Linked DNA regions of Homo sapiens. The protein of the gene in region 3 interacts with the protein of the main gene of each other region in a biochemical or structural test. Each region holds a gene or a part of one and is shown on either strand. Other genes may lie near its edges. The genes, in order: TAMALIN, PDZD2, UNC93A, FRMPD2, CARD11, PDZRN4 and LIN7A.

The links.
Region 1: the proteins of UNC93A (region 3) and TAMALIN interact in a test that uses a peptide from one of them, tested with the Homo sapiens proteins (one large-scale study listed by IntAct).
Region 2: the proteins of UNC93A (region 3) and PDZD2 interact in a test that uses a peptide from one of them, tested with the Homo sapiens proteins (one large-scale study listed by IntAct).
Region 4: the proteins of UNC93A (region 3) and FRMPD2 interact in a test that uses a peptide from one of them, tested with the Homo sapiens proteins (one large-scale study listed by IntAct).
Region 5: the proteins of UNC93A (region 3) and CARD11 interact in a test that uses a peptide from one of them, tested with the Homo sapiens proteins (one large-scale study listed by IntAct).
Region 6: the proteins of UNC93A (region 3) and PDZRN4 interact in a test that uses a peptide from one of them, tested with the Homo sapiens proteins (one large-scale study listed by IntAct).
Region 7: the proteins of UNC93A (region 3) and LIN7A interact in a test that uses a peptide from one of them, tested with the Homo sapiens proteins (one large-scale study listed by IntAct).

The regions. Positions count from the first base shown.
Region 1 is NC_000012.12:52,004,810-52,009,798, reverse strand, and holds the start of TAMALIN (protein TAMALIN), read right to left. Parts: upstream 2,854-4,989; 5' UTR 2,780-2,853; coding exon 2,534-2,779; exon of another isoform or gene 2,144-2,533; intron 1,978-2,143; exon of another isoform or gene 1,039-1,977; intron 610-1,038; coding exon 560-609; intron 1-559. UniProt on the Homo sapiens protein: Plays a role in intracellular trafficking and contributes to the macromolecular organization of group 1 metabotropic glutamate receptors (mGluRs) at synapses.
Region 2 is NC_000005.10:32,103,747-32,107,997, reverse strand, and holds part of PDZD2 (PDZ domain-containing protein 2), read right to left. Parts: exon of another isoform or gene 3,283-4,251; intron 1,875-3,282; exon of another isoform or gene 1,818-1,874; intron 1,711-1,817; exon of another isoform or gene 30-1,710; coding exon 1-29.
Region 3 is NC_000006.12:167,308,025-167,312,275, reverse strand, and holds part of UNC93A (protein unc-93 homolog A), read right to left. Parts: intron 2,737-4,251; coding exon of another isoform or gene 2,498-2,736; exon of another isoform or gene 1,680-2,497; intron 1-1,679.
Region 4 is NC_000010.11:48,240,030-48,244,280, forward strand, and holds part of FRMPD2 (FERM and PDZ domain-containing protein 2), read right to left. Parts: intron 2,324-4,251; coding exon 2,132-2,323; intron 464-2,131; coding exon 331-463; intron 1-330.
Region 5 is NC_000007.14:2,946,134-2,950,384, forward strand, and holds part of CARD11 (caspase recruitment domain-containing protein 11), read right to left. Parts: intron 1,655-4,251; coding exon 1,442-1,654; intron 955-1,441; exon of another isoform or gene 464-954; intron 1-463. UniProt on the Homo sapiens protein: Adapter protein that plays a key role in adaptive immune response by transducing the activation of NF-kappa-B downstream of T-cell receptor (TCR) and B-cell receptor (BCR) engagement.
Region 6 is NC_000012.12:41,568,995-41,572,708, reverse strand, and holds part of PDZRN4 (PDZ domain-containing RING finger protein 4), read right to left. Parts: intron 346-3,714; coding exon 1-345.
Region 7 is NC_000012.12:80,808,756-80,813,006, forward strand, and holds part of LIN7A (protein lin-7 homolog A), read right to left. Parts: intron 2,929-4,251; coding exon 2,710-2,928; intron 1-2,709. UniProt on the Homo sapiens protein: Plays a role in establishing and maintaining the asymmetric distribution of channels and receptors at the plasma membrane of polarized cells.

The DNA.
Region 1 (4,989 bases), on a different chromosome or scaffold from region 3:
GGATGGGACATGAGTAGAGAAGGGAAACTGTGGGGTCCCAGGGCCTGGAGTCAGCACCTACTTCTGCCCACGCTCAGATCCCTCCTAAGAGGGCTGCCACAGGCTGGGACCAGAAGAGGACTGACATTCTGGAGGCAGGGGCAGCCAGCCCCAAGCAGCTGGACACAGCCTGGCTAAGGTCTGGGCCCGTGGGGTTTGCCAAGGCTAGGAGGGCTCAGGGGAGCCCAGGAGGCCTGGGTTAGGACGTTCCCCATAGACTTTGCCTACACCCCCTCCCAACTCCCACATCCGTTCATCCAGATCTCCCCAGGGAGGGGTAACTGGCAGGGACTGGGGGTGTGTTGAAGAGCACCTAATGACTCAAAAGTCCCTACCTCCTTTCTCTGCCACCCCCTTCACACAGCCCTCACCCCCACCTGCCCTCACTCCCAGCGGGGGAGCCATGTTTAAAGGCTAGGAGAATGACTACCCTCGCTAGGCTGAGATGCTGTCCTGGCACCCCCCAACCCAGCACCTCACCCCTTTGGACCATGGCAGGGGCTGGGTGTTGGTGACTCACCGCTGCTGTTCAGGACTCTGGCTGAGATTCTTCCAGCGGAATCCTGAGCCCTGGGCAGTAAGATGGTCAGAAGGAGCAGGTAAGGCGGGACTGTCCTTGAGCAGACACTGAGAGGTTACCCTGGACACAGCGACCCACTTCCTGTCTGCCCCTTCCCAGCTCCACATCCACACCTGTTTTGGTGCTGGTGGAACTATTTGCCAAGTGCCACTACTGGCACCACTCCTCAACTTTCTCTACAGGCCTTACCTTCATACCTGGGACTGCAGGGACACAACCATCCTCCTGGGTTCCAGATCCATGAACCTCTAAGCCCTTGCTGGTTTCCACACTGGCAGCAGGTGGGGAGATCATTATTCTAAAATGGTCTCCACCCCTAGGGCCCATGTCTGTAGAGGCTCAGGCCATCCAGACTCCCAAAGCTGAGGCAGGGGCTCTTCCCCAGTGGGATTCAGAGGATAGGTGTCCCCTGGGCTCACCTATCAAGGTGCTCCGAGGACCTTCTGCCAGTTGGGTCTCTCCATCTAATTTCTCAGCTACAGACAGTGGCTTGGGAGGGCTGGGGTCAGGGACCCTGTCCCGAAGGGCTGGCAATCCCAGCCAGAATGTGGGGTCAGAGGTGCCAGGTCTCCTAAGGTACAGGCCGTTTCAAGGACCAGTTGTGGATCCCAGCTGCAGGTGACCAGCTGTGCCCAGCTATACCTGGGTCTCTCTCTCCATTGCCATATATTTTGTGCTTTCTGGGACAAAACATCTTAGATGTCAAACTTGTCAGCAAGTCTCACTAAAGGACCGAGACTGGGAGTTCTTTAGGGGTGGTGGTGGGGGGTGTGGAGGAAGGATGAGAGATGAAGGTTCCTGTCTCTTCAGGGTCCTTGATAAACTAAAGTAGTCTCTCACCCTCCCTAACTTTTTGGTCCTGGGAGGAGGTCCAGTCCCAGAGCAGCCCTTTTCTTTGGAGCCTGCACAGCCCAGGGCCTTTCTGTTCTGTGCCTTTGCTAACCCTCCCCCAAAGCTGCCCAAGGCAAGGAAGAGAAGGTTCAGAACCAGATTGGCCTCAGGGGTGGGGACAGTTCCCAAACGGCCAGGGAGGAAGGACTGGGCAGCACAGAGAGACCCCTTTGTCTTTCAACATGATTTTCATAAAATGCAAATTCTCAACAAGCTGTTCATTGTGTGGGGGCTAGCTGGGGGCCGGGGCGAAGGAGGGCGGCTGGGTGAGGAAAGGCCACCAGGCCCCTCTTCTTAACCTGGTGTTGTGTAGGTTCTGAGCCTCAGGTCTCCTGGGGCCAGAGGAAGAGGCTGGCAGAGGGGACTCAGAGGTGGGCGCGGCCCGCATCCTTCCTGCCCCGCGGGCGCCCTGCGACCCCTCCCACTGCGTCCGGTTCCGACAGAAGTCCAGGGAGCAGTGGCCCTCGCGCCCCGTACGTCAGACGTGGGGCCAGGCGGCAGGCCCCCAGCCCAGGAATCGGGGAGTCCCCTCGGAAGGGTGTGCTATCCGGAGTCAGCGGCTCCCCACGCACTTCCTCAGAGTGAGAACGCACGCGGCGCAGCCACCGGCCCGCTTCTCCCACCGGGGGCTCTCGGACCTTCAACTTGCCTGGGGCTGTCTCTGTCCCTCGGGCGAGGGGCTCCTGGGGACCCAGGACACCTGGCCACGGGGAGGCGGGGCATGGGGGGCAGAAAGCCAGATGGAGCGGGTAGGAGAAGGGGGGTGCTGGGAGGAGTCAAGGAGGGAGAGAGGGGGCGTGCATGGGGCGCGGAGTTAAGAGCCACCGAGCCTGGGCGCGGTGTGCAGGCGAGGGCCACGGCCTTCGCAGCAGCGGGGAACGCGGGGAGTCGAGGCACCCAGCGGGCCGGGGAAGAAGGTGGGGGACTCCGCGGACGCCGAGGAGAGGGCACTGCGGAGTCAGCAGGCCCTGTAGGGAGTCGGAGAGGGGCTGAGCAGATCCTGAAGGCGGGCGGGGGACGCACCTTTCGGCGGGGCAGGGTGCCCCCGGACACGGCGAGCGCGCGGTACAGCTCGGCAGGGTGATAGTCCTCCAGCGCCGCGTACAGCTCGTCCGCTGGGGGCCCAGGGGTGGCGGCTGCGGCAGGGGGTCCCGGGGTCGGGACCGGAGCGGCGGGCGCGACTTCCGAGTCGGGAGTCCGGGCGGCGGGGTCCGGGGTGGCCGCCGCCTCCTCCTTCTGCTGCAGCTTCCTGAGTCGGCGGAGGGTCATGGCTCCGGCGCCGGACGCCCCTCAGAGACGGCGCTGGCTCCCCTCGGCGGGGCTGGCGGCGGCTGGGGGATGCCAGCCGGGCGGGCCGCGGGTCGCCTCCCTTTATAGGCTCCGAGAGCGGGGCGGGGTTGGGGGCGGGCGGGGAGCTGCCTCGGGTGGCCTCGCCCCCAGCACGGAGGACCCTCCCCGCGAGGCGCCGCCGCCCTGGAGCCCCGCCCACGGCGCTCGACGGCCGGGGAAACTGCGGGAGCTGGGCGCTCAGTGGGGGAAAACGAGCCGCGGACGCGAAGGGGCGGGATGAGGCCCCCGGGGCGGGGCTCGGGGCTCGGGGCTGCGTGATACCTGGAGGGGTCTGTGAAGGGACATTGCGCAAGGTTTGAAATTTAGGGACGAATAGCTCTGGCGATTCATGGAGTGGGGCACGGTAAGAGGTCACTGTAAGAAGCCTGGGGAGTCGGGGAGGTAGGGAGAGTCACGGAGATCCAAGGGGCTGCAGGAGACTCCAGGGCAGGGAGAGCGGCAGCGGGGCTGCGCAGGAGTAGGGGTGGAGGCCCGATGGAGGAGGGAGGAGACTCCCTGAACTCACTGCGCAGAAGCCCCCAGGGAGGGAGAGGGCCCAGGATTTTCCCTTGACGCAGCTGCCCCAGAAGAGCTGAAAGAGGCTGCCCCCTGTTCGCACGTCTAGGAAGAAGGGAAGAGGTGGAAACCCTGAAAGCAGTAGGCTTAGTTCTGGCCTGTCCCCTCCAAGGGGCTTGAGTGATCCCTGCTGGCAACACCTTTCCTCAGCTCCTGATGCCGGGGTCAGATCCCCCTTCCCAGGAGACAGACGCTTACTGTGGACTTGACTCAGGAGGTTGGGATGAGCCCAGGCTGAGTGGGAGTTCAGGGCTGGGGGGATGGCCATGCTCAGCCGTTCTCTGACCCCATCTTAGGGACCATCCCCCAGGCTGTTACCATGGCTGCCAGGCGGTAGGAGAGGCGGGAATGGCCCAGCCGAAGTCTCTGTCGTCAGTGGTGCCCGAATAAGAAGTGAGAGGAGGAAGTGGAAGGCAGCGTCTGGTGTCTAAAGAGCGGCTAGCCACCACAGGGCGTCAGCAGCACAGGCTGGGGACTCCATGTCCCAACACCCATCGGCCAAGAAGCAGAGGCGGCAATGCGGTGCCCTTGTCTGTCCCCTCCCTCCTCCCCCAGTCTTCCCAAATCTGTTATGCCTTCACAGTTAACATTTATTGAGCACTTAGCATGTGCTATGCACACTGTTTGTTCTGTGTGTCCTTTTACATACATGCATTAACTCACTTGGTCTTCATAACAACCCTACGAAATAAGCACCATTATCCTCCCTTACAGATGAGGAAACTGAGGCCCAGAGAAGATAAGTAATTTGCCCTAAGTCACTCAGCGGCAGAGCTGAGATTCAAAGCCAGGCAGCCTGGTTCCAGAGCCTGCAATCTAACCACTCTGTGATGTTGTCCAACATTTAAGCCCTGCTGTGTGCCAGGTACTGGCTGGGCACTGGGGTTACAGAGGCTCTTGGCCTGGTAGGGAGTGGTACCTTGCACATGTGCTGTGTTAGACACGTGGCATAAGGAGCACAGAGGGGCAATGGCCACGTCCACCTGCGAGGCCAGGAAAGACTTTCTGCCTCCTGCCTGTCTCAGTTCTTGCGCCTGGCTCAGTCTTCTTCTCTAGTCTCCTTGACTCTGTGTTCTCCTCCCCACCCCCAGTCCTCTAGGCCCCCATCCCCTACAAGAGGTGTGGGTGGAAGAGGGTGCTTTTCCGCCCCTCAGTGATTGCACAAGTCCAGATGGCAGGATGCTTGTTGGGTGGGGGGCCGGGGTGGATTGAGGACTGCCAGGAGCTAAGAGGTAGCTCTCTTAGTGCCTTCTTCTCCCTCCTCCCACCTCCCGCCTTGGCACCACCAAGTGGCCATCAGCTGAGGGGCCGAGGGGGTGTCAGTGGGGAAACATGGGACTCTATTGTGAAGCATTAGCACAGATGGACCCCAGGACCGTCTGTTGCCTGCTCCTGACAGACAGCATCTGTGGGGGGTGGGAGGGGGAGACGCAAAGCGGAGAGGCAATGATGTATATTCCATTCATTCCATTGCTTATCCCCAAAGGGACCCAGCAAAAGGGCATCTTGCACAACCTCCTCTGTGAAGGAGCCACCCCAGCTATCACAGAGGGTTACCTAATGGACATGTCTCC
Region 2 (4,251 bases), on a different chromosome or scaffold from region 3:
TATTATTCCAGCTTGTTCAGCCGCACCACCTACGAGAATAAACACAGAATAATTAATAGCTTGGCAGTTTCATAGTATTCAAAAATCCTAAGTAAACTAAAAACTTTTAAGTGATAAAAATATCTAAATAATATATTATTGAATAGAGAAATATTTCTTAGAACACAAAAAGCATATATCCATAAAAGTAAACTGGTCTACAGAAAACAGTGCAACTCTAGCCCTCCTGCCGCCCCTCCAAACATAATCTGTAAGATAAAAATAAACTGACAAGGGGAAGATACTCTCTATGTATTTAATCAACAAATGGTTAACATCCAGACTAAAGAGCTACAAGTCAACAAGAATAACACAAAATAAAGTTGGGGTAAGGAAATCAACAGCTGAACTCCAAACAGCCAGTAAACACAGAAAAGCAGGTTCAACTTTTTTTGTTGTTGTTGAGACGGCCTCACACTGTCACCCAGGCTGGAGTGCAGTGGTACAGTTTTGGCTCGCTGCAGCCTCCGCCTCACTGGGCTCAAGCGATCCTCTCACCTCAGCCTTCAGAGTAGCTGCTACCACAGGCATACACCACCATGCACAGCTTTTTTTTTTATATTTTTGGTAGAGATGGGGTCTTGCCATGTTGCCCAGGCTGTCAGCTTCTAATTGTTAACAGATTCTGGCTGATATATGCAAGTTCTGAGAATCAGTGATTATGTGCTCATTAGTGACCATGGGGACTACTTACTTACAGAGTTTAGCATGTTCACATTATAGCTTTGTCTAGCTTTGTATGAGCTTTGAAAAAAATGCAAGTGTAAACCCTCCATTTACGTTCTCACACATATACTTCTAAAGGTACACCAGCTATGGAGGCATCTTATGGAAAAAAAATGGCATTGAAAGAAAAAGTCCCAAGTGTGAAAAAAATTTTCTCAGAAATTTTGATTAGACCTCAAAAGACTGAGCAGATGTATCGATTTCATCCTAAATTACTGAAAGTCGTTATTGAAATTATTGAAATAAATATTATGTGATAAAAATACAGCTTGGAAGAAATCCAGCCCACACAAGGACAAAAACATTTTCTGTGGTAAATGATAGAGGCAGTTAGTTACATTAGAAGAGAGACCTCACCAATATCAGCCCTGTAGTGGGCCCCAGGAAAATGATTTGGTCCCTAGTCCTTGCTTTTCTTGAGATAGATACATTTTTGGAAGGACCAAAGAACCAATTATATTTGTGTTAACTTAGTACCCAATGTCCTATTCTAGCATATTAACCGAAGGCCTTCAGGTTATGTGAAACAAAAGAATTTTGTGAGTGTTCACCTGGGCTTCAGGACATGGGAGGTTCCAGGCAACCAGAACAGCCTGACGCACACTGAAGGAGCAATCAGACTGGGTTTGGTCTCAAATCTGTGACTTCAGGCAAGTTACAGATTTCTCCAAACTCCAGTTTTCTCATCTGCAAAATGGTGATGATGATATCTGTCTTGTTATCTTACTAGGTTGTTAGAAGGACTGAATGAGATGAAGTAGAGGAAAGTCTTCTAGGACAGGGGTCCTCAACCCTTGGGCCACAGACTGGTGGCAGGAGGGCTGCACAGCAGGTGAGCAGTGGGTGAGTGAGCAAAGCTTCCTCTGTTCACAGCCTCTCACCGTCACTCACACTACCACCTGAGCTCTGCCTCCTGTCAGATCAGCAGCAGCATTAGATTCTCACGTGAGTGTGAACCCTATTGTGAACTGCATATGCGAGGGATCTAGGTTGCATGTTCCTTATGAGAATCTAATGCCTGATGATCTGTCATTGTCTCCCATCACCCCCAGATGGGATGCCTGGTTGCAAGAAAACAAGCTCAGGGCTCCCACAGATTCTACGTGATGGTGAGTTGTATAATTATTTCATTATATATTAAAATGTAATAACAGAAATAAAGTATACAATAAATGTAATGCACCTGAATCATCCTGAAACCATCCCCCACCCAAACCCTCACCATGGAAAAATTGTCTTCCACAAAACCAGTCCCTGGTGCCAAAAAGCTTGGGGACTGCTCCTTTAGGAAACATTCAGTGTTGTACAAAGCAGAGGTTTGCCAGCTTTTGGACTTTTTACACAAGAGAGAAATAAATTCTCTCGTTTAAACCACTGCTATTTTGGATTTCCTATTACATGAGGCCAAACTGAATCTTAACAGATTTGAGCAGGATATGTCTCTCTCTCCATTTACTCATAGATTTTTTAAAATTGTCCTTTAGAAAGCTTTTATGCTTTTTCCCAAAAAGGTCTTGCATAGCTTTTGTTGAACACATTCTTAGGTTCCTTATGCTTACCATGAATTGGTGTCACACAGTGCACAATCTGCATTTGGCTTTTTTTCATTCAACACTGTTTTTGAGCCGGTCCCAGTTAGTATATAGAGAGAGGTGTAATTTATTTTTTCAACTGCTATTTAGCTTTCCTTTAGATGAATATATTTTATTCTGCTACAGATAGAAATTTAAATTGTTTCATAGCTTCCATTTTCGTAAGCACTGCTAAAATTTTCCTTAAAGATTAACCAGTAGATACTTGCACGAGAAAAAAAATGTGTTTTCCTTTCTCCACATCCTTGCCAACACATCATAGTATGAGATTTTTTATTTTTGGCCAACTTGATAGATTAAAAGAATGATTTATAATATTTCTAATTTTCATCCAATACATTTAAGTTTGAGCATCTTCCTGTGTTTCTTGGCCACCTAGGTTTTAACTTCTGTCCATTTGCTATTGCTTTCTTTACCCAAACTTTCTCTCTTGTATTTTTCTTACTGAATTATATAGTTCTTCATATATTCTGGATTGATTGATTGATTGATTGATTGTTTTTTTTTGAGACAAGGTCTCCCTCTGTCACCCAGGCTGGAGTGCTGTGGCACAACCATGGCTCACCACAGCCTCGACCTCCTGGGCTCAAATGATTCTCCCACCTCAGCTCCTGAGTAGCTGGGACTATAGGTGCGTGCCGCCACACCCGAGTAATTTCTGTATTTTTTGTAGAGGTGGAGTCTCGTCATGTGGCCCAGACCGGTCTTGAACTCCTGGGCTCAAGTGATCTGCCCACCTTGGTCTCCAAAGTGCTGGGATTACAGGTGTGAGCCACGGTACCCTGCCTATTCTGGATATCAACCCTTTGTTTATTAAATATATTGTAAATATCTTCTAATCACTTACTTTTGAATTTGCTTATAAATTTTGCCATATAATGAACATTTTATATGTTTTTTTTTTTTTTTTTTTTTTTTTTTTTTAGATGGAGCCTTCTCTGACCCCAGGCTGGAGTGCAGTGGTGTGGTCCTGGCTCACTGCAACCTCCGCCTCCTGGGTTCAAGTGACTCTCCTGCCTCAGCCTCCTGAGTAGCTGGGATTACAGGCATGCACCACAATGCCCAGCTAACATATTTTTAGTAGAGACGGGGTTTCACCATGTTGGCCAGGCTGGTCTCTAACTCCTGACCTCAGGTGGTCCACCCACCTTGGGCTGCTTAGGAGGCTGAGACACCAGATTCACTTGAACCTGGGAGGCAGAGATTGCAGTGAGCAGAGATTGTGACACTGCACTCCAGCCTGGGTGACAGAGCTAGACCCTGTTAAAAAAAAAAAAATTCTTTATTATTCAAATGCTTGTTCTGTAATAACCTTACTCAAAGAAATCAGTCTTGCTATATTGTTTTCTAATGCTTGAGCTTAAAGACACAGGAAAACAAAATGAACAGAAAACCTGTACTCATGAAATTTGTAAATATGAAATACGAGATAAGGTGAATCCTGACCTCAAGTGATTCGCCTGCCTTAGCCTCCCAAAGTGCCGGGATTACAAGCATGAGCCACCATGCCCGGCCAGATAATGACATCTTTAGTCTCACTAGTTTCCAAAGGTGGGATCTGCCGTATCATACTCAGAAATACTTGAATGGCTTTCCCCAAGAACAAAACCACAGGCTTGCACACGAGAGCATCTAAAGCGCTAGTCTGTGGGACTGACAATTTTCTTCTTCTCTATCCATTTCCATAGCAGTTTTCACAGATTTGTGGCCAGATGCTAGAGACAAAGGCTGAGAAGTTGTCCAGGACGTCATATTCTTGCTTTGCTGGAGGCAGATCTGAAGGATGTCATCTCTCCTGTGGCTTCTTCTAGTGTGGGGTCCCGAAGCCTGGCTTCCCCAGCCGATGTGCTGCTTTAGTCAGCGTCTGCCCTGGTCCTTCGGTTCGCAGGCTCAC
Region 3 (4,251 bases):
GTTAACATCGCTGGTGAGGAGGCCTGTCCCTGTCCTGTATCCCCCATATGACGGGACAAGAAAGTGCCTCACCAGGGAGCTGTCCTCCGCAAACCCACAGCCCCAGCCTAATCATGAGAAAACAGCAAACAAACCAAAATTAAGGAACAGCCTACAGACTACGGTGCTCTTCAAAAGGGTCCAGGTCATGAAAAACAAGGAAAATGAAAAGCTGTCACAGAGCAGCCAGAAGATACGATGACTGAGTCCAACAGGGAATCCAGGACAGGATCCTGGCACAGAAAAAAGAACCCTCGTGGGAAGCCTGGAGGAACCCAAATAAAGGCTGTCCCCCCACTAACTGTCACATGGCAGCGTTACTTCCTAGCTGTACGAATGTGCCGTGGCTCTGTGAGATGCTCAGCATTTGGGGAAGCTGGCACAGGGCCTACGGGGTAAATGCATTGGATCTATAGGTTGGTACCTTTCAAGGGGACTCTCTGTACTACATTTGCAACTTTTCTGTAAATCTAAAACTATTTCAAAATAAAAGCTGTATTTAGAAAGACAAAGCATTGCTCTCAGCCTGGCCTGTCTGCCTCCTCTTCCCAGGTGGCCCAGGGTTAAAGAGACCAGGATGTGGATGAGAAGTCCAGCAATCTTGTTTAGTCAGAGAAGACAGGTTAAGTGAATAGGGCACTGAAGAAGTGAGATTTTCTGAGTTTATCACCCTGAAAACAGCCAACAGAGCAAAAGAGTATTTTTAGACTAGACATTCTGTATCTTCATGGCAGCGCATTGGCGGGGAAGGGTTGCCATGGCAACTGCACCCATCTTTCATTAGCTGTCTGAGGGAATAAGCAGAGAGGAGTGCCTGGCACAGATCTCCCCTTGCAGAGGCCAGGGGATGGCTGGAGCCCAGTGGGACAGTGAGCCAGGGATCCTCAATTCTGGCCCAGGAAGGAGGGGCTCAAATGGTGAAGTCTTCTGACCTGCTTCTAAGTGGGAGACTGTAAGGACCAGTCTTTAAATTGAGCAGTGATGACTGAAAGGTGAGGACAAAGTGCATTGGGTTTTATTCGGTGTCGTTAATTAAGAACATACGTGGTCCACATATGTTCTTAAAGGAAAGCATACATTTGGGGAGAATAGGATTAGAAATCTAACTTGCTACTTAGAAAAACAAAAATGAAGAGAGCTGTTCTTGAGATGTAGCCAAAGCTACATAAAATTTCCAGTTTTTTCAAAAAATAGAGAACAGAGACCTTGTGTGTGTGCTGTGCTGCATGGAGAGCCAGCCTGCCAGGAGTGCAGGAACGCGGCACTAAAATGCCACTCACGCATGACGATTGCGAGTATAAAGTCCACAGGAGCTTCTCAAGTATATGAAAATATTTTCCCCAACATTTTTTTTGTGAGACAGAGTCTTGCTCTGTCGCCCAGGCTGCAGTGCAATGACGTGATCTCAGCTCACTGCAACCTCTGCCTCCCAGGTTCATGTGATCCTCCAGCTTCAGCCTCCCTCGTAGCTGAGACTACAGGCATGTGCCATCACGCCTGGCTAATTTTTGTATTTTTAGTAGAGATGAGGTTTTACCATGTTGGCCAGGCTGGTCTTGAACTCCTGAGCTTAAGTGATCTGTCTGGTTCATCCTCCCAAAGTGGTGGGATTACAGGGGTGAGACACCGCACCCGGCCAGTTTGGTTTATTTTTGAAAAAAATTACTTTTTCCTGTACAGAAAGACAGAAACAGTTTCAATTTAAATTAGCATCCCTTATTAAAGGGAGTCTTTATTCCAGTCATTCACCGGACTTGGACGTTGATACTCTTTGTTTGACCTTAGGTAACTTTGTTTGCACAATTCAACAAGGCTTTCCCTGAGAGTATCATGTGTCCATATAAGGAAAAGGAGAGTTAAGTCCACTGTTCACATAGCTCAGGAAGAACAAAAACCAAATATGAATGATCACATTCATTGGGAGCATTTAGGGAATTATCGTATGGAATATTGTGGGGATATTTGTCCCAGTGTTCTCCTTTTCATTTAATGTGTAAATACATTTTAAAATTCATGTAAGTTCAGATAAGTCATGGTGCACTTCTGGTAATGGGATGTGCATTTGGGGAGCTCAGTGAAACACCGGCTCTGCCACACATCCAGGGGACAGTTTAAACAAATACTGTTTGATGCTTATTGGTAACGTAGCTAAGAGTCCTGCAGCGAGGTGACATGCCACTAGCTTATAATTCTGCACTGCCAAGAACACCAAAGTGAGTTGCTGTTTGTCTCCCCTCCATTAAATCAGTATTTGTTCTGTTAAGCAATGCCCCGGCCTGGCCTCGGGTCCAGTCTACCCCTTCCAGCCTCCAGGCCTTGATCCCAACAAGCCAGAGTGTGGCGCTGGGCCAAGTACACACGCATTTTGGTGAAGAGCTTCACTAGGTCCACCTGCATTACTGGGGCAGCAGAAAGGACTGTGAAACACGGCTCCTTAAATCCAACAGTGTGGGTTTGTTCAAAGGTGATTTTCAGCTGTCCTGTGGATACGCAACCCACCAGGAAGACAAGAAAGGACGTGGCTGGAGTGTTCTGTCCGCGATCTGAGGTCACATGTGCTCTTTATCCTCAGTGCAGGGACAGCAGCCAGGTCTGTCATCTCAGAAACATTGGCCTGTAGTTCGTTTGTGGGTTTGCTTTTTCCATTTTCTAAGCCCCGAGTGTTTCCCAGATAAAGGCAGAATGGTGAAGTCTCTCCTGAAGGGAAGAGGGTCTCATGTGAGCCATGCTCACCTCCGAGAGGACACTTCATCTCACCTCATCAGCATCTCTTAGACACGCAGTCTTGCCTCTTTGGGCCTCTGACACCCCTCGGGGCCTTAGATGGGGTTTTTTGGGAAATTCAGGGTTCCTACCCTAAGTCCTCATCTGTGTCATTTTCAACACCACCCAGTACGCACACCCTCCGGCAAGCGGCCACACACACTGCCCCAGCTTCCTTCTCTTCCTAGTGACCTTCCTCCAAAACGCTCTCACGCATCTCCTTGTGGAAAACACAGCCAGCCCGCACAAAGCACCTCGGAGCTCAGCAGAGCCTGGCATGAGTGCAGTGGTGCGATCTCGGCTAACTATGACCTCTGCCTCCGGAGTTCAAGTGATTCTCCTGCCTCAGCCTCCCGAGTAGCTGGGATTACAGGTGCAACGGCCATGTCCCCTTCCAGCTCTCTTGCCCTCAGGCCTCTCTAGTGCAGCTGCCTGAGCCTGGGGCCCCTTCCTCCCTGGCTCCTGCTTGGCTCCTTGGCTCCCGCTCATCTCCCATCCGTGTCCTCACTGCCCTGCCTGACCTCCTGGCCAGGCCACCCTATTCTGTGAGGACTTTGGCATTTGGCTCCTGCCATCATCATGGGATGTCACCTTCTATCCGACAACCAGCCCTCCCGGCTCCCCACAGGGCCGCACCTTGGACCTTGTCACCTGCCTTTTGGAATTGATTGTTGTGACACGGGGCCGACTCCACATAGCTCCCAGTCACTCCTGGGTGTCAGCGCTTTCTGCTGCTTCCAGTGACCTAGGTGCATCTGACCCTCCCCCACATGCTGGCCCCACACTTGGGGACCCGACTTGCCACTCCACCCCACTCCTCTGCACTCCCCCCAGGCCGCCTTCTTAGGGGCCCCAGCCCCAGCAAGGCCTTGGAGCATCCCTGCCACCTCCTGCCCTGGTTCCTCCTGCACCCCACCCCACCTGGACAGTGGTCAGCCCATACGTGATGCAGATGTAGCCTCTAGGAGGAAGCCCACCCTGGCCTCCCCTGCTCCCCCACATCCACAGGGCCCCCACCTGCTGCTCCCAGAAAACCCACCACTGCCCAGGATGCCCCAGAGCCCCGTCCACAGACACTGACCCTAGTGACCTGTGATGTGTGTGGCTTGTGGCTCACACTGCCACCTCCCATCGTCCCGTGGGCTCCTTGGAAGGCTCTGCATGTTTACACCCCAGGCCCAGGTACACGGGAGTGTGCCTCTGCTCACAAGCACATCTGAATAAAGGTTTTCAGTCATGAAGAGACTGCTGTCCTAGGGGTAGAGAGTCTTGCACCCCAGCTCGAATGGGCGACTTGACTTAAGCAAAACCACATCATCCTGAGGGAATGGTGCCCAGAAGGAACCTTGGGTGGTTTTCCAGTTTTGCATCATGAATCTGAATAAATGCTCAGAGAAAATACATCAGACTCAGAGGCGACATCAAAGCCCTCTTGGCCCTCCCGTCTCT
Region 4 (4,251 bases), on a different chromosome or scaffold from region 3:
ACACACCCAGAACAATAACTGAAAAAAAAATCAAGTTTTTCTTTTCTTGTTGTTTGTTTCAATTTGGATTTTCTCAACTTGGACAGTTAGAACTCATTTTTAAAGTTTTCATTTGATATAAATAACTGTGTTGTGTCCCCAAATAAGACTTTCCTGGGAACACAGGTGAGTCCTAAGCTCAGCCCCTTCTCTTCAGGGGCTTCCTGAAAGAGTGGCACTTACATAGGCTTTCTCTGCCATCACAATGTGGATGTGTAGCCCATACAGGGCAGGAAAAAATAGAATGGGTACCATCAGCCCACGCAGGGACTGCTTAGGGCACGTACCCACCTCTGCAAGGATGCAGACACTCCGGGGCCTGTGCCGCTGGGCTCTCGCTGCTTGTCCCACGCAGCCTCTTCCTGAGCAGGTAGCTTCTGTTCTGCTGCACAGAGGAGCTTTCCTCCACAACTCTTTTCTCCACCTGGGGGTCAAGTGCATCACACATCCACATCCCAAGATAAGGAGGGGGCGTTTTTATAGATACATGCAAACTGGCTGTCAGACTGAATCAATGTGGAATTGTCTGCCCTATACGGTGACCTAAAGATGTGTTCTCTGGCACCCAGAATGTGCTCTGTGCCCACCCCCTGCATGCACCCTGAAGGCACTTCACTCCCCACTCCAGACCTGCACACTCACACACATCTGTGCCTTTGCTCATGCATTCCCTCCATGGCTACAGCCTCCCCAGAAGCTCCTCTGTGCCCACAAGACCCAGAGCTGTGTGCTTTCTACTTCTAAGCCTCTCTACCTCTGCCGTCTGATCACCTTCCCTTATCACTGCACTCACACCTGGCTCTGTTGCATCATGTTCCATGAGTGTGCTGCTTGTCTGTCTCCCCCAACATCTCTGTGTGCTTTATGCACCACCGTAGCACACCTAATGCAGTGCCCAATGAATGTTGAATACGTGACTGACATCTACCTTGCAGATCCCTGACGGAAATGTTGCAGGTCAGTACACTGTCTATCCAAGGACAATGGCACACCAGTGGATGGTAGACCTCAGTATCTTTCAAATAAATATAGTCCATTTCCCCCACCAAATCCTCTGGCTCAATTCATAGGAGCCACATGTTCCTATGCCAAGAGAGAAGGGGTCCAAGAAGGAGGCCTTCTCTGATGGCAGAGGCCTTCTCTGATTGACTGTTGCCGCTGTCCACCCTGCTGTCCCCACATCTCCATCCACTTTGGCCCTCATTAATCCTGCTCTCAGCTCTCCAACTTGTCCCTGGACAAGTGCAGCCACTCAACTGGCCTCTAGCTTACCTGTCTCTGGTTCCTCCCAAATACAAACTTCCTTACATTTTGTGCCATAGGCACCTCACTTGCCCATCCTATCCCAGCTCCACTCAGGTCTCATGGGGGACCAACTCCATGGTGCCATTCCTGCAACAGAGCTCCCCAGGGGGCCAGGCTGGGCCTGTCTCCAGCTGAGACTATATCCTTCAACTTGTCAGCTGTACTACCATCACTCCCCTCTCCCAGGAACATTTCCCCAGTAAATAACTTGCACAAGAATCCCTGTCTCTGGGTTAGCTTGGAGGGAATCCAACCTAAGCCAAATGCCTCCCATGTGCCAGGCCCCTTGCTGCACTCTGTGGAGTGCACAGGGCAGCAAGCAGCACAGTGTGACAAGCACAACAAAGGACACCCCACAGGTATAAAATAGCAGAGGGGAGGGTACCCAGGGACCACAAAAACGAAGTCGGGGAAGGCTTCTGTGCAGAACCTAGAGTTGAATTTTGATAAGAAAACTGAATCATGGGTTCTAAACATTATTGCTTTATGTAAGGACGCACTTGCAAAGATGTCAAGGGTCTTAGCCATGTGACAAACTGGGGCTTGCCTAAAGGTCTTTGTTAGCACTGCCCAATAGAACTGCAATGACAAGAATGTTCTAGATCCACCCTGTTCAATAGGGTCATCACCTGCTACGAGTGGCAACGGAGCACTTGAAATGTGACAGATGTGACTGATTAATTTAATTTTTTATTTTATTTTAGTTAATGATAATATAACTAATTCAAATTTTAATAGCCACACATGACCAGCAGCTACTGCTTGAAAAGCACGGTTCTCTACTGACCTCAGAAATGGTACCCAGAACCAAGCCAACCAGCCTTCTGATGTGGAGACCAGCAGGGGCTGGGTAGACAGACACTTCTTTCTCATGAACCCGACAAGCTTCCAGAACCGACTGCAACGTGCACCGCCTGTGAGGCTGGTCTTCACACATGGTCAGCAGGATGGAGTGCAGGGGCTCGCAGAGCTGCAGGGGCTGGAGGCAGACAGGGCCGGTGAGAGGAGAGAGCAGCCAGAGCTGCCACTACGAGGCCAGCACCTTGTCAGGCAGGCCTTGGAGACATGGAAACGGGTGTTCCCACAAGCACCAGAGCAGATGCCTGCCCCTTCTGGAGAGTTTAAGGACAGACACAAGATCCATCACTGAGGCCGCAAAGTGCGGAGCAATCATCTCTGCAGCAATTCTGTGTTGTCTGCTGCTTTCTAAACCAGAACATCCTTCTGCCCAAGCACATGCTTGGAATGCTCATGAAAACTAGATGCTTTGACAAGATGGATTTCCACCTGTGCCAAGCACCCCAAATCAAACCAGAGGTCAGCCTTTCACTCAAGTTCACCTGCGTAGCTTGTCATTGTATCCAATCACTCAGGGGGTCTCACTTGGCCTTTCCCCTGGAATGTGAGCTCCTGGAACATACAGACTGTGGCCTATTCCTGTTCACTTCGGAACAGCCAGCAGTCAGCACAAATGCTCAATCGTTGTTGGTTGAACTTTATGTCACGTGTACACATCGAGCAAAAGAAAACAGAAGCATCTTATAAGCATTTCCCTCATGCATTTAAATGACCACAATTCATAGGAGAAAGTCCTCAAATTCAGATTCAAAATCAGACTTTTTCTCAAGCTCAACACACACTGCAGGTCACTTTCCAGATAAAGGCTGCACTACCGCTTCTTGCTGGGGAGCATCAGCTGTGAGCACCTATCTCTGTGTACAGCCAAGCTGCTGAGTCCTGCCGTCACAGTAAATCCAGGCGTCTTTTGTGCCTGGTGCTGCACAGCCACACCAGATACAGTCCCTGCCTTCAGGAAAATAATGGTGTGATGAGAGAGACGGTCACTAAAAGAGACAAAGACCATAGAGGATGACAAGGACTTTCACCTTGGGAAGCACAGGCCATGGCACTAATGTAGAGGAAGGGGCTTAGCCAAGGCTAGAGTTAACCAAGAGGAAAGTGGGGAGTGAGGTGCTGGTGAAGGGATCCGTGTGTACAAAGGCACGAAGATGCAGATGAGCTGACATGCATCTGAAGGGAAGGGGATTATGAGCAGGACAGGGGCCTGGGGGAAAATAGCAATGTGGGGTCCCTTGTTCAAAATTATTAAGAATTCCAGGACAGTGATAGCAGAGCATTAAACTAAGTGCAGGACCCTGTGCTATGACACAGGGTCACACACTCAGGACACACACCCAGGAAGCCGGTCCTGATTATGGCAGAGTGCCAAAGGGGAACCAGACGGGAGCAGGGACCCTATCCTAGGCTCCAGGTGTGTCTCACTGAGAAGTCAGAAGGCAACCCCACGGCCAGTGAGGCGTTACAAAAGGTTGCATGTGAGAGTGGTCGTGAGCTGGTCTCTTAGAAAGACCACCCAGGAAGAGCCCGGATGTTGAATTGGAGAGGGTCGGGGTGAGTAGAAAGAAAGGCAGGAAGGAAGGGAGGAGGAGGGAGGGATCCAGTCTAGCCAGGTCAGCTAGGCAGGGCTCTCCAGCAGGTGTTCTTGTGGCACCAGTCTCTAAGGAATTGTTATAGTATCAGATGGAAATGTACACAAACACTTCTATTCTGTAGTTGAAAATTGTGTAAAATATTAGGATATTTTTATGTAGTTCTTTTTTGAGACAGGGTTTTGCTCTGTTGCCCAGGCTGGAGTGCAGTGGTTTGATCTCCACTCACTTCAACCTTCCCCTCCCGGCCCCCGGGGTTTAAGCGATTCTCATGCCTCAGCCTCCCAAGTAGCTGGGACTATAGGCATACACCACCACACCCAGCTAATTTTTTTATTTGTAGTAGAGACAGGGTTTTGCCATGTTGGCCAGGCTTGTCTCGAACTCCTGAGCTCAAGTGGTCTCCCCACCTCAGCCTCCCAAAGTGCTGGGACTATAGGCGTGAGCCACCATGGCC
Region 5 (4,251 bases), on a different chromosome or scaffold from region 3:
CCCTCCGCAGGGATTTGGTGAGCGTTAGTTTTCTGTTTCTAATAAACTGGTAGAACCAGGATAAATGGAATTGCCGCCCCAGTTTTGAAGAGTTTCCCAACTGACCAGGGCCAAAATGAACCACGTAGGCACCAGGTCTTCTATGACTGAAGGAGGTTGGAAGCACGATAAAAATTATGGAATAATATATGGTTCTCTGGGATTGAGAGCAGGAAGACAAATCTTTGGGTGAGAGGCTAGGAAAAATCATAGGAAGTAGGGATAGTTCTAGGTTTTTCTTTGGGATTATTACACAACCTGGAAACACCTTAAATGTAATTTCCCCAGCAGGTCCCAGTTTCTATACTATTGATTCCACTTATTGCTTACATTTCTGGGCCCTTCCTTAAACATTTTATTTTCAGATATTCTTCTGAGATATAGAAGAAGAAAGGTAGGTCTTAAAACTCGACCTTTTCCCTAGGACGGACAGAAGAAATAAATTTGATGGTATGTCAACCCCGATTGTTTGGTGAAGCCGCCTGCAGTACTGTTTCGAGAAACATTCCAAAGTTACATCCAAGCTCAGTGGGAAAGCATGCTGATTACTGATGTCTGCCATGGATGCCAGAGAGTCGCAGCTGATGAGCCACTTACCACCAGCCACGCTGGGGGACAGTGATTATCAAACCTTCTAAACTGATCCATAGAAAGAAAAACATTTAACATTGTGGTCTAGTGACCATAGACAAAGATAACTCTACAAGTACATGTGTATACACATGTACATAATGTAAAATTAAAACAAGCTTCACAAACCATATTTATTACCTTTACTGAATATGATAAACCCCCCCTCCAGAAGTCAGGCTAGAAAAGCTTGTGGAACCCTTCTCGGAATATTTTTAAACAGATAAAGTACATCAGATTACAAAAGAAACCAATTATAATAAAATCCAGTTATCAAATATTAAATAAATTTGTGTTTCAGTAACATACTTCTTTATTAATGCATTAAATAACAAGACCTCTCGGCAGGTCTAATAAGTACTGTAATTTTGAAAGAGAGATGAGTGTAAGTGGCATTTTGAGAGATTTGCAGTAACTGTAGTGATAGGAAGAGATCTGTAATTTTCATTGTTGCCTAAGTCACAAGAATTACTAATCACTCCTGTAATTTGTGGCTTCCTGACATTTGCAATTGAGGGCAATGCTGAATTGCAGTTGAGGTTGGTAAAATAAAGATGGCATTTCTTCCCCCCTCCCAGTTTATGGATCCTTTGAGTTCCATACACAGACAGCTTGAGTTCTATACACAAATGAGTAGGTGATGGACTGCGGACCCCAGTTTAAAAATCCCTGACCTAGAGCAACTTCATTTTGGTACAGCTACCAAAGGGTATGTCTGGAAGTTGCCGTGTGCGGTAGCCCTCCCTCTCCCGCAAAGAGGTCCTAAGGTTACCTGCTCGGTTGATCTTGGATGGCAGCATAGGGGCATTAAGCACTTCATCTTCATCCTGCTCATCAATGACCTTACACTGACGCAGGTAGGGCGTGAGCTTGGCAGGGTTGATATAGCGGCTGAGCATGTGCCGGTTACACTCCACATTCTCCCACAAGGCGTCCTCTTCATCCTTCAGCGTCTCCATGTAGTCATCCATCTCTGGCCCTCCTCCTTTTAGACATAAACCCCAACAAGCTTAATAAAGCAGTCTCACTGGAACAGCTCTATCAACTCCTCTGGAGTGACCTCTAGAATATATTAAGTTAAAAAAAAGTCCTGTACACTAAAGTATATATAGCATTTTACCTTTTGTCTAAGAAAGGGGTTATGAATATAAAAATATATATTTCCTTATATGCTAAACATAAACAATGGAAGTTTAAGCCATCAATTTTAAAAAAGATTATTTATAGGGCAGAGAGGGAAAATCCTGCGGTTGAGTCTACCCTTTCCATCCAAGTTTTTATGTCTTACTAAAAATGTATAGTTCCCTAAACAATATATACTATTGGCTTTTGTTTTAAAATTTCACATAAATGGTGTCATACTGTACGTTTCCTTTTTCAGCATGTTTTTCTCCCTCTACATTTTTTTTTGAGATTTATCTAGATGGATACATATAGATCTAAGTCATTCGTTTTTAAAAATAGCTTTATTGTGATGTAATTCACATAGCATACAAGTTACCTTTTTAATATGTTCAATTCAATGATTTTAGTATATTCACAGAGCTGTGCAACCACCACCACAATCAATTTAAAATCATTTCCGTCATTTCAAAAAGAAGCTCCTCACCCTTTATTAGCCACTCTCAATTTCCCTCTAATCCCTGCTCCTCCAGCCCTGTGTAACCACTCGTTCACCTTCTGTCTGTATAGATTTGTCTTTTCCGTACATTTTATACAAGTGAAATCCTACAATTTATGGTCTTTCATGTCTGGCTTCTTTCACTCAGCAACTTTTCAAGGTTTGTTCCTGTTGTAGCATGTATCAGGACTTCACTTATTTTAAATTGCTCAGTGATTTTTTCATTGCATGGACATGCCCCATTTTGCTTGTCTGTTCATCCACTAATGGACATTTGAGTTATTTCTACCTTTTGTCTATTATGAACAATGCTGCTATGAACATTCATGTAAAAGTTTTTGTGTGACTGTATGTTTTTATTTCCCTTGGGTAGATACGTAAGAGTGGATTGTTAGGCCATATGGCAACTCTATATTTAACATTTTGAGGAATTGCCAAATTGTTTTCCAAAGCAGCTGCATCATTTTACATTGCCACCAACAAGCCATGAGGGTTTTAATTCCTCCATATTCTTGCTAACAACTTGTTATTGTCTGTCTTTTTTATTACAGCTCTCCTACTGAGTGTGAAGTAGCATCTCATTGTGGTTTTGATTTGCATTTCCCTAATGACTAACGATGTTGAGCATCTTTTCATGTGCATATTGGCCATTTGTGTGCATTGAGAAATGTCTATTCAAATCCTTTGCCCATTTTAAAATTGTGTTGTTTGTCTTTTTATTATTGGGTTGTAGGATTTTGTTATGTATTCTGGATGCAAGCCACTTATCAGATATATGACTTGCAAATATTTTCTCCCACTCTGTCAGTTGTCTTTTCACTTTCTTAAAAGCATTGTTTGTAGCACAAAAGTTTCAAATTTTGAGGTAGTCCAATTTATTTATTTTTTCTTTTTTTCACTTGTGCTCTTGGCATGTATCCGAAACACCATTGTCTAACTCAAGATGATGAAGACTTACTCCTGTTTTTTGCCTTTGAATATTATACCTTAGTTCTTACATTGAGGATGATCCATTTTGAGTTAATTTTTGTGTATGGTGTGAGGTAGGGGTCCAGTTGCATTCTTTTATGTGTGGATGTCCAGTTGTCCAAGCACAGTTTGTTTGAAAAGACTACTCTTTCCCCATTGAATGATCTTGCTACCCTTGTTGACAATCAACTGACCATAAAAGTAAACATTTGTTTTTGCACTATTGATTCTATTCCATTGATCTATATGTGTATCCTTATGCCAGTACTACATTGTCTTGATTACCGAAGATTTGTAGATTTGTAGTAGGCCTTGAAATTGGGAGTATGGGTCTCCCAACCTTGTTCTTTTTCAAGATTGTTTTGGCTATTAGGTGCCTTTTACCTAATTTTAGGATTAGGATGTCAATTTCTGCAAAAAAGGCAGTTGGCATTTTGGTAGTGAATCTGCTGAATATGTAGATCAATTTGGAGAGTACTGCTACCTAACAATATTAAATCTTCTGATCTATGAACAGGGGGATGTCTTTCTTTAAATCTTCTTTAATTTCTTTCAGCAATGTTTCATAGTTCTCAGTGTACAAGTCTTGCACTTCTTTTGTTAAATATATTCCTAAGTATTTCATTAATTTGATGACATTATAAATGGGAGTTTTTTTCTTAATTTCATTTGTGGGATATTCATTGCTGGTCTATAGATATATAATTTATTTTTGTATATTGACCTTGTATTCTGCAACCTTGTGAAATCATTTATTAGTTCTGTTAGTTTGTTAGAGACATCTTATGATAGCCTATATATAAGATCATGTCATTTGCAGATAAAGGTAGTTTTACTTCTGTTTTTCCAATCTGGGTGCCTTTTATTTCTCTTCTTTGCCTAATTGCTCTGGCTAAAATACCTCCAGTACAATGTTAGATAGAAATGTTAACAGCAGGAATCCTTGCTTTGTTACTGATGTTAGCGGACAGCATCCAATCTTTCACTGTCAA
Region 6 (3,714 bases), on a different chromosome or scaffold from region 3:
ATACTCTCCATGATTTCGAATCTTGCATTTGAGCTCCAAGAGCTGCCTGAATCTTTCACAGTCCTCATCTGGGTTGCCAATGCAGTCTGAGTCAATGTATTCACCAGATACGAGGCTCTCATTGTACTGAAGTTCAACACTTCCCAGAGTGTCTTGGCTCTGCCCCAGGTCTCTCTTGCTCTTCAAAGATGTGCTATTGGGGTCCTCGGCTGCATTCTCCTGCTCTGAGCTCTCATCATTTCGCAAGCTTTCATCTGTACGTCCTACTCCACTGTCCTTCTCATGGTTGTTGGATGAGGATGTTGCAGTGTCTGTTGTGCCTTCTTCTTCTTCTTGCTTTTTTGGCTAAGAAAATGATGTTGAAAGAACAAAGAAAATTAATGATTTTGGAAGACATTTGTTATTAAAAATCTTGTTTGAAAACCAATGTTTCCTGGCAAAGTTGCATCTCCTAGACAGTTGCTCTAATTTAGGGTCCATCACAATTTTAGAAATAAAGGAAATTAGCTCATGGCAGCTTTTTATACAATGAAATGAAGAAAACAAAACCCGCTTGAATATGGCTATGATATTCACATGGATATAAATAAGACAGAATGCATTCAAATAAGTGATTCTTTAGGTTTTCTCTTACTTGGGAAACTCGGGGTTGAAGGTGTATAAACAAAGTGACTGTATGAATTTCTGAGGTGATAATATGCAAAAGAATAAGACAGAATGTCTAAATAGTCTTCAGCAATATGGAGACCTGATGTTCAGAAGCCACAATCACCTTATGTTTTTCCCCTTAAGTACAGAGGAAACTTCACTGGCTTAGTAATATGCTGACAATGGGTAAGCCAAACATCACAGAGTTTTAGGACTAAGTTAACATTATGTACTGGAGCCTAGGACATTGCTATCTATAGGTGAGGATGCTCAATTCCAAAAGGATTCAGGTTATTAGTGGCAGATTCAGGTTATTAATGACAGATGGAGGCAAAGCTTCATCTTCCAGTGCCAGAATTTCTTATATGTCCAGGATGCCATATTCCTGAATACATGTGCTCTGACCTCAGTGCACTCTAAATCATGTTTCTCAAAAGCAACAACAATGTTTTAGGACTCATTGGGGTTGTATAAGATTTTTCTACTCTTAACCAGGGATTTTTTTTCAAAGATAAATTTTAGTCTATTGAGAATAAAAATTCAGTCCCATGAAAATTTGAACAGCACTGATTGCCAGACATGGGCATAATATCAAAAAAATTTTGACACTTATGTCACATATATGTATATAGGCATGCATGTATGTTTATGTAGTGTGTGTGTGTGTGTGTGTGTGTGTGTGTGAGAGAGAGAGAGAGAGAGAGAGAGAGAGAGAGAGAGAGAGACTCTGGTAATTTTTGGCTTTCATGTAAAACAATTAACTGTAACTGTCCTAATAAGATGCATGTGTAGTTCTTTCTCTGTGAATATGGTAAAGTTACTTTCACCTCTATCAGTCATCATATGATAATCTATAAGGCAGTTTCTAGGTTATATCTGCCTTATGCCTAAGTTTATTCACTATATATATATATAGATAGATAGATAGGTATAGATATAGCTCCATCCCTCTAGAAGATGTAATTACACAATTAAATATAATCAAGCCAACAGCTAGTGCTAAAGAAGGATAGAACGGGTGACAAAAGATATTCTAAAAGAAGTCTAAAAAGGTCTCTCTAGATAATTGTTATTTTGTTCCACAAAAGTAGTGGCAGGATAAAAAGTAACAATATCAAGAGGAGAGAACATAACCATGTATCAGCTTTTCTATGACTCTCAATCTTTCTTTCCCTGGAACATGTTCCTTCATTTGTTGAAAACATACTGAGATTTATCTTAAATGTCTTATTGATTAAAAAATTATAATAAGTAACTGTAACGAACAATGGGAAGCTTGCTGCATCCCTAGGCTGTGACTTATAAGGTGACAATAGTATTTAATATGGCAATGTCTTTATACTACACCATATAACTCTCAAAGAATGTTATTGATACTGGGCATTTGAATTTATATATCGTGTTATTTATAATTATATTTTTCTAATATCTTGTCATGAGCTGAAAAATACAAGAAGACTAGTAATTTTTTTCTTATTTTACATGCAGATGACATAATAATGACAAATTATGCTATGGGAGATGTTGCACAATGTAACGGCATTCATAAGACCAAACATACTGTGTAAAATGAAACTTTCCATAAAGTAGGTTCACATATGGGTAGGTATTTTATTTTTTCAATTGAATATCCCCTTTCCCTTGTTATTGGTCTATGAACAACTGTGAAAATAAAATAGTTTTCTATTCTCAAACCTAGAATTCCTAGTTTCTAATGCAATGCTACTCTATCATTTATCATTTCCCTATGGAATTATTATAGTGACAGGCAATGTTTCTACCTAGACATTTCTAATGTAGTATTATTGTTTATAAGGGCAAAGGACTTTTAAAGGTTTCTGTACTTCTCACCATTTTTTAGTCTCATGGTGAAGAAAAAAATTCCACACAATGAGAATCTAACCTCAGAGGCATCTAGTGTTACCTCACGAGACCTAACATTTGTATTACCTCTGATGAGTAGGCAGCGTTTGACACCGTTGTCACTTTACCTGGACAGGATTTCTCCCTGCTTTCCTTATTCCAACATCCTCCTATCAATTCAGTATCAGGTCACATTTTGTATCTAAGAAAAAAAAAGCCTGGAGCAAGGACTTTCTTGCTTGTAACCAGCAGCTGCCACCAAAAATATCTTTATTTTTGGCCAGTGTTGAAGTTATACATAAAAATTTTAATCTGCCCTACCTATATTGAAAGACAGTCACCACAGTAGCGATATTACTTGTGAGCATGAAATTCTGTTTGTGGAGTGGCCAAACTCCACATAATGAGCACATGAGTATATCACATATGACTATGTTGATGCTATAGTGTGCAATCTAATTATTTATTTAATATGTGGACATGTGCACACACATACACATTTCTGTTATGGGATGTTAGCAAGCTGAATATTTCATTATTCAACATGGTAAAGTGATAGAATGTTTGTGCTGCAAGTTTCTAAGCCTGTCAAGATTTTCAAAAAAATTATCATCTTTTAAGATGTGTTAAGAATTAATGTTGAGGCCAGGTGCAGTGGCTCATGCCTGCAATCCCAACACTTTAGGAGGCTGAGGCTGGTGGAGCACTTGAGGTCAGGAGTTCGAGGCCAGCCTGGTCAACATGGTGAAACCCCATCTCTACTAAAAATACAAAAATTAGCTGGGTGTGGTGGTGGGATCCTGTAATCCCAGCACTTTAAGAAGCTGAGGCTGGTGGACCACTTGAGGTCAGGAGTTCGAGAACAGCCTGATCAACATGGTGAAACCTCATCTGTACTAAAAATACAAAAATTAGCTGAGCATGATGGCGTGCACTTATAGTCCCAGCTACTCAGGAGGCTGAGGCAGGAGAATCGCTTGAGCCCAGGAGGCAGAGGTTGCAGTGAGCTGAGATTGTGTCACTGCACTCCAGCCTGGGCGACAGAGTGAGACTCTATCTTAAAATAATAATAATAATAATGATAATAATAAGAATAGACAGGGCACGGTGGCTCATGCCTGTAATCCCAGAACTTTGGGAGGCCGAGGCAGGTGGATCACGAGGTCAGAGTTTAAGACCAGTCTGACCAACATGGTGAAACCC
Region 7 (4,251 bases), on a different chromosome or scaffold from region 3:
CGGCCTCCCAAAGTGCTGGGATTACAGGCGTGAGCCACCACGCTTGGCTCCCAATAAATGTATTTTTTAGGATAGAATGCAATTTTAGATAAAGATACTAAAATATGGTACATATAATAAAAATAGCAGCCTATGAAAGATAGATAGATTGTTGAATTCCCAGGATTGTTGTAGGACAAATCCCTATCTTTTCCCCCCTTTTCTGTGTAGCTTCTTCTTTTCATTTTTTTTTTTTTGTGGTTTTTTTGAGACAGAGTTTCACTCTTGTTGCTCAGGCTTGAGTGCAATGGCTCGATCTCGGCTTACTGCAATCTCCATCTCCTGGGTTCAAGCAATTCTCCTGCCTCAGCCTCCCAAGTAGCTGGGGCTACAGGAGCTAATTTTTGAATTTTAATAGAGATGGGATTTGACGATGTTGGTCAGGCTGGTCTCAAACTCCTGACCTCGTCATCCACCCACCTCGGCTTCCCAAAGTGCTGGGATTACAAGCATGAGACACTGCTCCCAGCCTGTAGCTTCTTCTTTTCACAAGTGTCACAAACAATTAAAAGCCTCATGTTATATCCAATATTTCTGTTTGTGCAAATAGTAATCTGATGTTGAATGACCTAAAACCACTATTACCCACAATCATTTTTCCAAGAATATTTGAAGTTCACTTCAAATACACATTCACAGACATCATAGTGTAAAGGTATCTAACAATATGAACTGTCTTCTCCAAAGGATAGCAAGGAAAATTTATATAACTCCAGAATATCTGATGTTGGCAGATGAAAACCTGATGGAGTAAAAAGGAAAAGAATTCTATGTTTCTGTAAATGCAGTCATGGGAAATCCACTGAAGCTATTTTAGCTTCATATTTTCATCTAAAAAACTATTTATTGATACTTGCCTTGAAGGTTTTTTTCTGAGGATTAGGGATAAAATGTGATAAGGGCATAGGGCATAGTAGGAACTTCTAAGATGGGGTCTCTTAACATTTTTTCTTCAATTCTCTTGATAATATACAGCAAAACCTGATTTAGTGTTCTTTGTTACAAAGTGGAATTTAGAAAAAGGCAGGAGAATCTTAGACACATTTTATTTCTACTTTACAACTTTTTCAAAACTCTTAAAGTTTTATTTTTCATTGACAAGTAATAATTTTATATATTTATGGATTATAATGCGATATTTCAATGCATGTATACATTGTGGAATGATCAAATCAGGCTACCAAAGTTGTTACCACAAATACTTATTGTTTCTTTGTGGTGAGAATATTTACAGTCCATTCTCTCAGCTATTTTGAAATATGCAATGTAGTATTATTAACTATAGTTACCAAGTTGTATAATAGATCATCTTAACTTATTCCCCTTCTACCTAACTGAAACTTGTAACCTTTAGCTAAGACCTTTTCCCTTTTCTCTGTCTACCCTCCTCCCCCAGCCTCCCAGCCTCTGGAAACCACATTCTACTCTCTACTTCTATGAATTAAAGTTTTTCAGATTCCACACATAGGTGAGATCATGTGGTATTTGTCTGCCCATGCTTGGCTTATTTCACTTAGCATGATGTTCTCTAGGCCCATCCACGCTGACAAAAATGACATTTCCTGCTTTTTAAAGGCTAAATATTAAATGGTATACATCTGTGTGTGTGTGTGTGTGTGTGTGTGTGTGTGTGTGTGTGTGTGTAGGTAGATATAGATATCTATCACATACTTACCACATTTAAAAAATGTATTCATCCCTTGATAGCACTTCAGTTGTTTTCATATCTTAGCTGTTGTAATAATGCTGTATTGAACATGGGAGTGTAAACATCTCTTTGACATATTGATTTCAATTCCTTTGAATATCTCCCCAGAAGCAGAATTGCTGGATCATATGGAATTCTATGAACTTTTTTGAGGAACCTCCATATTGTCTGTCAAATTGGCTGTAGCAATTTATATTCCCACCAACGGTGTACAAGGGTTCCCTTTTCTTCACATCCTCACTAGCACTTGTTATCTTTCCTCTTTTTGATAATAGCCAAATTAAAAGGTATGAGGTGATATCTCATTGTGGTTTTAATTTGCATTTCTCTGATGATTAGAGATGTTGAGCATTTTTTCATATAGCTGTTGGCCATTTGTATGTTAGACACACTTTAAAGGAGCATCCGCAGAGAACTTCAGAATCTCTTACAGCATAGACAGTGGCAGGTCTCAGCTTCATTCTTTTCAGTGGGGCACTTTTCCAATAAATTGTATCTCAGTATTCTAAAGGAGATCTTTCCAGGGTCAGCACTATAAGGTTGTGCAGTTAATACACTGTGTAAAGGCAACTGGCCAACAGGGTGAGTGAGGCCTGGAATCCAGCCCACACTCTTCTCCTTAGGATCTGGGTTTGCACAGAGGCTGCATTTTCTTAATTTGTATAAAAGCATCCTAGAGCCTGTACTTGCCCCTTTCAAAGTATATCATTTTCCAAATTATCTTATATTTGTGGAGAATATAGCTGAATGGCACATAAACTATCTTGCTTATATACTTTTAGATCACTGTCTTTTGTTTGATTGATTTTGTTTGGATTATTTAAATCTAATGATTTTGTTTCAGCTAAGAAAATATATTTTAGAACATATCTAAAATATATTTTAAGTATATTCATATATACATATATGTGTGTGTGTATATATATATATATACTCCTTGTATAGAATAAGTCACTTCTCACCTATGACATGTGGTTTTGTTGTGTTTGTTGCTGCTGCTGCTGTTGCTGCTGCTGAATTAGCAATTGCTGCTGCTGCCGACGCCTGGCTGTTCGTAGCTTTTCAAAGCGAGCCTCCATTTCTTCCAGAACTTTTGGGGTGTATCGCACCACCAGCTTGACGCTGTCTTTAGCAGCCTTGAGTAGTTCCACAGCTTTCTCATGGTGTTCTCCTTCCACACTCTGAAAATACAATGACACTTCTTAAAGGGAGGAGGTTCAATGTTCTTTTCCCTGGAGACAAATCTGAAATTAATATCACATTAAGAACCCAAAATTTAAAATTTTAAGAAAACATGGCAAATGAGTTATCTTACCATCATCGTTATTATTTATTACATTGTGGTTAAACTATAAGCAGGTTAGGCTGCACTAGGTCACAGAATGGACTGTGTGGGGATTCAGGTCATAAGGGTGAAAAGCAATGAAGACCTAAATTATAATGCTAACATTAGGAATGAAATTTCCAAATTTTATCTGGAAGAGTAAATGCACTAGTCAACAAAATTTTGAAAAAAATTAAAACATAGTAACAAAGAGAAAATTTCTGTATCAGATATTAAAATTTATTAAGAATCTACAATGATTAAAGTGGTGTCTTATTGTGTGTATAAAAGAGATAGTAGAACATAGCACAGAGTCCAGAAGGAGAGTCATCACATGGAAAGCTTTATTTATTATTAATGTGGACTTTAGACCAAAGGAGAAAAGGACTATTAACTAAATTAAATAATACAAAATAATGGAGACTCAATCTCATACACTATGCTAAATATAACAGATTAATTAAAATTTAAATGTAACATAAAAACATAAAGTAACTAAAATAAAAGAAAGGTGAACATTAATCATTTTTCAATAGAAAAGGAATTCTTAATTTAAAATGCCACAGGAAAAATAACCACGAAATCAGATGTGCACAGTGTAAGTTTCTATGTCTCAAACACTGTAAAAAAAAAAAAAAAAAAAAAAAAAGGCAAACCAGAAAAACAGTTTCAGTATGTGACTGTCATATACTTAGTGCAAAAGGGTTTTTTTTCTGGTTTATTTGCCCTTTTTTGTTTTTTTGAGACAGAGTTTCACTCTTGTTGGCCAGGCTGGTGTGCAGTGGCCTGATCTGGGCTCACCACCACCTCCGCCTCCTGGGTTCAAGAGATTCTCCTGCCTCAGCCTCTCGAGTAGCTGGGATTAAAGGTGTGCAACACCACGCCCGGCTAATTTTATATTTTTAGTAGAGATGGCGTTTCACTATGTTGGCCAGGCTGGTCTTGAACTCCTGACCTCAAGCGATCCACCTCCCTCAGCCTCTCAAGCTGCTGGGAGTACAGGCATGAGCCACCACACCCAGCCTGCCCTTCATTCTTCTAACAAGTCAATAAAGATCTAAGCAGAATGAGCAGTTGACATGCATGGACAAAAAATAAAAAATATAAATGGACAATAGACCTCAGAAAAGATATTCAAACTCCCTAGTAATCAAAGAAGTATAGACCGACATAAAAATAA